2 linked regions of the Homo sapiens genome follow. The gene in region 1 interacts genetically with each later gene. Each region holds a gene or a part of one and is shown on either strand. Other genes may lie near its edges.

Region 1 (3,744 bases):
CGCACCACCACGCCCAGCTAATTTTTGTATTTTTAGTAGAGAAGGGGTTTCACCATGTTGGCCAGGCTGGTCTCGAACTCCTGACCTCAGGTGATCCACCCACCTTGGCCTCCCAAAGTGCTGGGATTACAGGCGTGAGCCACTGCGCCTGGCCACAATCTTTATTTTAATTCCCATGATGCTTCTATGAGGCAGCAGAGCCCGGAAGTTAAAGGGGCTGTGAAGGCCTTCACAGTGCTGAGATCCAATCCAACCCTTGCTACTTAACTACCTGGGTGACCCTGGTCATTTTCTTTTCTTTTGAGACGGAGTCCGGCTCTGCCGCCCAGGCTGGAGTGCAGTGGCGCGGTCTCGGCTCACCGCAAGCTCCACCTCCCGAGTTCACGCCATTCTCCGCCTCAGCCTCCCCACTACAGGCGCCCGCCACCACGCCCGGCTAATTTTGTTTTTTTGTATTTTTAGTAGAGACGGGTTTCACCATGTTGGCCAGGATGGTCTCCATCTCCTGACCTCGTGACCCGCCCGTCTCGACCTCCCAAAGTGCTGGGATTACAGGCGTGAGCCACCGCACCCAGCCCACCCGGTCACTTTCAGGTCTCCAACCTTCGATTTTCCTCATCCCCAAAATGAGAATAACAATAACATCCACCTGTCAGGACTGGTTTGAGAATGAAAAAACCTAAAGCAGGATAAGGGCTTGTTACATTACTGGCAGAAGCCGCCGCCCCATTCTGTAGGGGAAATAGAGGTTCACAGAGGTAGGGTCACCTACCCAGGATCAAAGAACTAGAAAGCGGCAAGTGTGGGACTGGAAGGGGCCACAGGCTGGCTGCAGTGCACCAGCCCTCTTGCACTAGGCTCTGCTGCCTCCCTACGGACAGGCCCAGAGCCCAGATCCTGGAGAAACCGAGGCCCCACCCTCTTGGAACCACCAACAGGGCCCTAGACGCCCATCAGGTGCAGGAGGAAGGGGCCCAGAGGAGGGGAGGGCCAGGCTCAGGCATCGGAGGCAGAGAAGGGCCGGGACGCCGGCGTCTGCGAATGTCTACACCGGGCGCCCGGGGGCTCAGCAACCCGCGAGCACTTGTGGACGCACACCAGAGAGGGGGGATGACAGGCGCCCCGCAGGAGAGGCCCGTGAGGGTCGCAGCAAACCTGGGGGTTTCGTGGAGGGCTGTGAGGGTCCCGCGAGATCCGCGAGGTGTCTGGGTCTGGGAGGGTCGGTCGAGCCCGCAGCTCGGGCCATCCGGGCCTCTGCCAGCCCGGGATGAACTGCCCGCACCCCGGCCGCACCCTCCGGGTCGGCCCGGTTACCTTCCTCGCTGAAGGGCGCCGGGAGGCCGAGGAAGCCGCTGGGGGCCAAGGCCGCCGCCACCGCCGCAACTGCACCCTCGCCCGCTTCCCGCCCGGCTTCGGCCTGGGCTTCTGCCGTATGAGCGGCCGTCACCCGCACTGCCATCGCGCCCTCCATGTCGCAACGCGCCGCAGGAAGATGGCGGATTTACGACCATGTCGTCATAACAACGGGCCGCGCCGAGGCCAGCGTGAGGGAACGGCAAGAGGAGGGCGGGGCAGAACCGGAGCGGATTGACGGACAGGCGGGGAGCCGGGCCTGGATAGCGGTGTGGCCTTAAAGGGCAGAGGCGGGGCCGGGCGCGCTGAGAGCGAAGATGGGGCGGGACTGTGGGGAGGGCGTGGTTACGGTGGAGCAGATTGCCAGCCAGGGGGCGGGGCGGCAGAAGGACCTATGTTCGAGGCTGCACTCGGATTTGAGAGCCAGAGAACGCGAGGGGCGAGCGGACTGGCGGCTGCTAGGCAGCCGCGCCCCAGCGCTTCCGTACCTAAGGACAGGTCGCCCCGCCCGCGGCTGCTGCTGGGAAGCCGCCACAGCTCCAACCAGGGGTGTGGTGCCTGCTGCCCACTGACCGCCTAGGGTGTTAGAGCCTCCCAAGATGGTTACCCGGGTCACGGGAAAAGAACACGGGTCGGGGATGGCTCATGGGTAGCTCTGCGAAGCTGTTTTATTCTTTTATATACTTTTAATTTTTTTTTCTTTCTTTTTTGAGACGGAGTCTCTTTCTATCGCCCAGGCTGGAGTGCAGTGGCGCGATCTCGGCTCACTGCAAGCTCTGCCTCCCGGGTTCACGCCATTCTCCTGCCTCAGCCTCCTGAGTAGCTGGGACTACAGGTGTCCGCCACCACGCCAGGCTAATTTTTTGTATTTTTAGTAGAGACGGGGTTTCACCGTGATAGCCAGGATGGTCTCGATCTCCTGACCTCGTGATCCGCCCGCCTCGGCCTCCCAAAGTGCTGGGATTACAGGCGTGAGCCACCGTGCCCAGCCACTTTTTAAATTTTTTAAAATTTATTTGCATTATGTATTTTAAATAGAGACAGGGTCTTGCTGTTTAGACTAGGCTGGTCTCAAACTCCTAGCCTCAAACCATTTTCCCATTTCGGCCTCCCAAAGTGCTAGGATGACAGGCGTGAGCCACGACTCCCAGCCACGTTGAATTTTTGGTTTTGGAGATGGGGGTTGTTTTTGGTTTTTGTTTGTTTGGGGTGTTTGTTTTTGAGACAGAGTCTCACTCTATCACCTAGGCTGGAGTGCAATGGCGCGATCTCACTGCAGCCTCCGCCTCCTGGGTTCAAATGATTGTCCTGCCTCAGCCTCCCGAGTAGCTGGGACTACAGGAGTGCACCACCATGGCCAGCTAATTTTTGTATTTTTAGTAGAGACAGGGTTTCACCATGTTGGCCTAGATGGTCTCAAGCTCTTGACCTCACGATCTGCCCGCCTCGGCCTCCCAAAGTGCTGGGATTACAAGCATGAGCCACCGCGCCCGGCCTGTTTTTGTTTTTTGAGATGGAGTCTCGCTCTGTCACCTAGGCTAGAATGCAACGGCACGATCTTGGTTCACTGCAATCTCCGCCTCCCAGGTTCAAGCGATTCTCCTGCCTCAGCCTCCTGAGTAGCTGGGACTACAGGCAACTGCCACCACACCCGGCTAATTTTTTTATATTTTTAGGAGAGACGGAGTTTCACCATGTTGGCCATGCTGGTTTTGAACTCCTGACCTCAGGTGATCCGTCCCCCTTGGCCTCCCAAAGTGCTGGGATGACAGGCATGAGCCACCGAGCCTGGCCAGATTTTTTTTTGAAACAGCACCTTGCTCTGTCGCCCAGGCTGGAGTGCAGTGCCGTGATCTCAGCTCACTGCAGCCTCTACCTCAACCACCCAAGTAGCTGGGACTACAGGTGCCCATCACTAGCTAATTTTTGTATATTTTGTAGAGATGGGTTTTTGCCATGTTGCCTAGGCTGCTATAGAACTCCTGAGTTCAAGCGATCTGCCTGCCTCAGCCCTCTTACATACTTTTAAAAAATTGTGGGCCAGGCACAGTGGCTCACTCCCGTAATCCCAGCACTTTGGGAGGCTGAGGTGGGTGGATCACCTGACATCAGGAGTTCAAGACCAAGCAGGCCAACATGGCAAAATTACGTCTTTACTAAAAATACAAAAATTATCTGGGTGTGGTGGTGCACGCGTGTAATCCTAGCTACTCAGGAGGCTGAGGCAGGAGAATCGTTTGAACCTGGGAGGCAGAGGTTTCAGTGAGCCGAGATCGTGCCACTGTACTCCGGCCTGGGCAACAGAGCAAGATTCCGTCTCAAAAAAAACTGTGGTAAGTGCACATAAAATTTACTATTAGCGACATTCACAGTGTTGTGCAACTATCACAG
Region 2 (3,744 bases), on another chromosome or scaffold:
CAGCGATCTGTGTACTACCAAATGGAATCCAGTGTTCCATTCTCCATTCTCACCCCCTCAGCATCATTTGAAGCTTGCTCCCTTTGACTCCCAGGGGCTACACTCTCCCAGTTTTCCTCCTACCCCCTGCAGCTCCTGCTCAGCTCCTTTGCAGATTCTGACTCAACTTCCATATCTCACGATGAAGTCTGGGCTCAGTCCTGATCACTGGCCTGGTCTGTCTACATTCATCTGCCCCAGATCCACGGCTGAAACACTGACCTAAACCCTCAGACTAGATCCTCCGTGCCAGTACCTTCACTAGGATGTCTAAAAGACGTTTCAAGTGAACATGGCCAAAATTTAATTCCCTTTTCTTCAGCCTCACTGCTACACTTGCCCAGCTTCCTCTTTGCAGCAAAAATGGCCACTAGGCTCCCAGTTACTGGAGACAAAAGCCCAAACTTATCTTTGATTTCTCCCTTGTCTCTACCTCTGATAAACATGCCCAAATCATCCTGCTTCTTATCTCCATGGCTACTTTATTTCTCTTTGAGAACGCTGCAATGTCCCAGCCTTGTTCTTTTTTTTTTTTTTTTTTTTTTTGAGACAGAGTCTCACTCTGTCGCCAAGGCTGGAGGGCAGTGGCACGATCTCGGCTCACTGCAACCTCCGCCTCCTGTGTTCAAGCAATTCTCCCACCTCAGCCTCCCGAGTAGCTGGGATTACAGGCACCCGCCACTACGCCTGGCTCATTTTTTTTTATTTTTTAGTAGACATGAGGTTTCACCATGTTGGCCAGGCTGGTCTTGAACTCCTGACCTCAGGTGATCCACCCGCCTCCGCCTTCCGAAGTGCTGGGATTACAGGCATGAGCCACCGCGCTCGGCCCCTTGTTCATTCTTTGCATTCTGTCACAACTTTGTGCTCCCCCCAGCTGAATTTGTGATGTCCTCTTGTACCGGATGAGAGGGTCTCCATGCACACACAGACCTGGGACACTATCCATCCACAAGTTCCTAAATAGGCCAGAGCAGTGATGCTCAACCCAGACTCCATGTTACAATAATTTGGGGAGTTTTTAAAATTTACTGATGCCTAGGGTCCACTCCCAGCAGTTGATTCAACAGGTCTGCGGTGGGATCCAGGCTAGCGGGGAGGACTGTAAAAGCACCCCTGGTGATTCCAGCTGGTGTCTACCCAGGGGAGAGCAACCTTTGCTTGCTGGCGATTCCCAGGGGTGCAGAAGGACTGCTGGGTGTGTGGCTGCGTGCATATTTTAGCATCTGATTCACTGGGTCAGAAAAGGGTGTTTGCTAAATAAAGACTCAACAAAACTCCTGCTTGCAGGGGGCCCACCAAAGGTTCTAAATTTTTCCAGGCTCCCTCCCATAGGTGGTAATTTCCCTTCACCCTAAAGGTTCTGGAGGGGGTCATGAGTGTTTGAGAAGAGGCAAGCCTGGGAAGATGGACTCCGAGGACAGTAGGCACAAACCCTTTCTCAAGAAGGGCCAAGGCATTTTAAAGATAAGAAACTTAAAATCAGCGTATTTTTACATATAAGCAGCCACCTCTGCTCATCTGTGGCCCAGATACGAGTGGAGTGCGACAAGGGATAAACCATTTTCGCGCACTCTTCAGCGATGGGGCGAAAGTAACGGACCTAGTCCTCGGGAGCTGTCCCCGCCGACCCCCTCTGCCGCGACTTGACCCGCGGCGACTGCGCTGCCCCTTGGCTGCCCCTTCCGCTCTCGTAGGCGCGCGGGGCCACTACTCACGCGCGCACTGCAGGCCTTTGCGCACGACGCCCCAGATGAAGTCGCCACAGAGGTCGCACCACGTGTGCGTGGCGGGCCCCGCGGGCTGGAAGCGGTGGCCACGGCCAGGGACCAGCTGCCGTGTGGGGTTGCACGCGGTGCCCCGCGCGATGCGCAGCGCGTTGGCACGCTCCAGCCGGGTGCGGCCCTTCCCAGCGCGCCCAGCGGGTGCCAGCTCCCGCAGCTCAATGAGCTCAGGCTCCCCCGACATGGCCCGGTTGGGCCCGTGCTTCGCTGGCTTTGGGCGCTAGCAAGCGCGGGCCGGGCGGGGCCACAGGGCGGGCCCCGACTTCAGCGCCTCCCCCAGGATCCAGACTGGGCGGCGGGAAGGAGCTGAGGAGAGCCGCGCAATGGAAACCTGGGTGCAGGGACTGTGGGGCCCGAAGGCGGGGCTGGGCGCGCTCTCGCAGAGCCCCCCCCGCCTTGCCCTTCCTTCCCTCCTTCGTCCCCTCCTCACACCCCACCCCGGACGGCCACAACGACGGCGACCGCAAAGCACCACGCGGAGATACCCGTGTTTCTGGAGGCCAGCTTTACTGTGCTAGAGGAAGAGGGTCCCCACATCCGGCCCTGGCCCTCCTGGTCCGGTTTGCTGAAGCAACACACTTGGCCTACCCACTGGGTGGGGCAGGAAGTCTCGAGCCTTCACTTGGGGTGAGGAGGAGGGAGATCGGTCAGCAGCTTTACCGCCCGCTCTGCTCTCCACTGCGGAGACTGGGGCTCCGGCAGAGGCTGGACCGTGATCTTGAGGTTCAGGGGTGCATTCTGGGTGGATTCCCTTGGCATGGGTGGTCGGCCCTCAGCAACTGCAGCCCTCATTTGGCTCTGTCACCCTGGGCTGCCAGGACACAAGTCTTTCCATGCTTTTCCCAGTGCTTGACTTGGCACTCCCTGCAGGCAGGTGGGTATTGAGGATGGCAATGCATGTGGGGGATGTGGGAGTAGGGCTTAGAGGTCCAAGGTTCTAGGATACCCTCACCTGCAGCAATACCACTCATTCTGGCATCGTGAGCAGCGCTTAGAAGCCTCTGCACTGCAGTAAGCACAGCGGGGCCGCTCTGGAGCCACTGCCTCTAGCACATCCAGCCTGTAGGTCTCAGCCCACCTGGGGGAAAGTCAGGAAGGTCTGACTGGCCCTGGAAGGTGGGGGCACCCCACCCACATCCATGCCTCCTGCATCCCCTCCACCCTCCCTGCCATTTCCACAGGCCTTACCTTCGCGCCTGCAGCCGCAGGTCCTGCTCTGAGGGGCTGAACACATGCTGGAGCTGGTGCTTGGCAATTGCCTGCCACTTGCCTCTGTTTTCTCGCTCCAGCCGCTCCCAGATTTCTGGGATCTAGGAGAGAGAAGTGGAGAGTGGCAGGAAGGTGCTGGTAAAGTGGGACAGTGGTCCTGAGCAGCTAACTTTCCAGTGCCTACCTGTTCCAACACCAGGTCCTTCTTAGGAGGCTGGGTTTCAGTTAGGGTCAGATGGGCCAGGAAACTCTGCAAGTGGGCCAGGTTGGGCAGCTGGTCCAGCAGTGTGTCTGTGAGGAAGGCCCGAAGCTGCAAGGGTGTCCAGTGGAGGCCAGTGTGATGCAGGTGCTGGCCAGGGGGCCAAGGAAAAGGAAGGGGCTGGGTTGGGCTGAGAATGCCTGTGGGGGCCCATGTCCCACTAGCTGGTGTGTCACCTGAGGCCCAAGGACTGAAAAGAGCACTGGGGTTGAGGTGGGTGGGCAAAGATAAACAGCAGGGACGCAGTCGGGGTAGGATGGGGAGGGCGGTACTGGGGCTGTGGGGGCTGGTGCGGAGGGAGTCTGACCTTGAGTAGCCGTCCCTTGGCAAAACTTGTGAGGCAGTAGCGCGCCTGAGCCTCAGGGCTTAGCAGCAGGTTGTACAGGGCGATCCACACTTGCCCGTCCAACTTGCTCAGCTTTTGCTGCTCTGAGGGGGCCACAGTATGCCAAC

The links. Genes that interact genetically often act in the same process or in processes that back each other up.
Region 2: of E4F1 (region 1) and RASSF1, changing one enhances a phenotype caused by changing the other (phenotypic enhancement), as found in Homo sapiens cells (one study listed by BioGRID).

Annotation. Positions count from the first base shown.
Region 1 is NC_000016.10:2,221,341-2,225,084, reverse strand, and holds the start of E4F1 (transcription factor E4F1), read right to left. Parts: upstream 1,495-3,744; 5' UTR 1,472-1,494; coding exon 1,315-1,471; coding exon of another isoform or gene 1,156-1,314; intron 1-1,155. UniProt on the Homo sapiens protein: May function as a transcriptional repressor. May also function as a ubiquitin ligase mediating ubiquitination of chromatin-associated TP53. Functions in cell survival and proliferation through control of the cell cycle.
Region 2 is NC_000003.12:50,338,799-50,342,542, forward strand, and holds the start of RASSF1 (ras association domain-containing protein 1), read right to left. Parts: upstream 2,039-3,744; 5' UTR 2,008-2,038; coding exon 1,758-2,007; intron 409-1,757; exon of another isoform or gene 296-408; intron 1-295. Other genes in the region: ZMYND10 (zinc finger MYND domain-containing protein 10), read right to left, coding at 2,612-2,687, 2,776-2,901, 3,012-3,133, 3,217-3,342, 3,599-3,744. UniProt on the Homo sapiens protein: Potential tumor suppressor. Required for death receptor-dependent apoptosis. Mediates activation of STK3/MST2 and STK4/MST1 during Fas-induced apoptosis by preventing their dephosphorylation.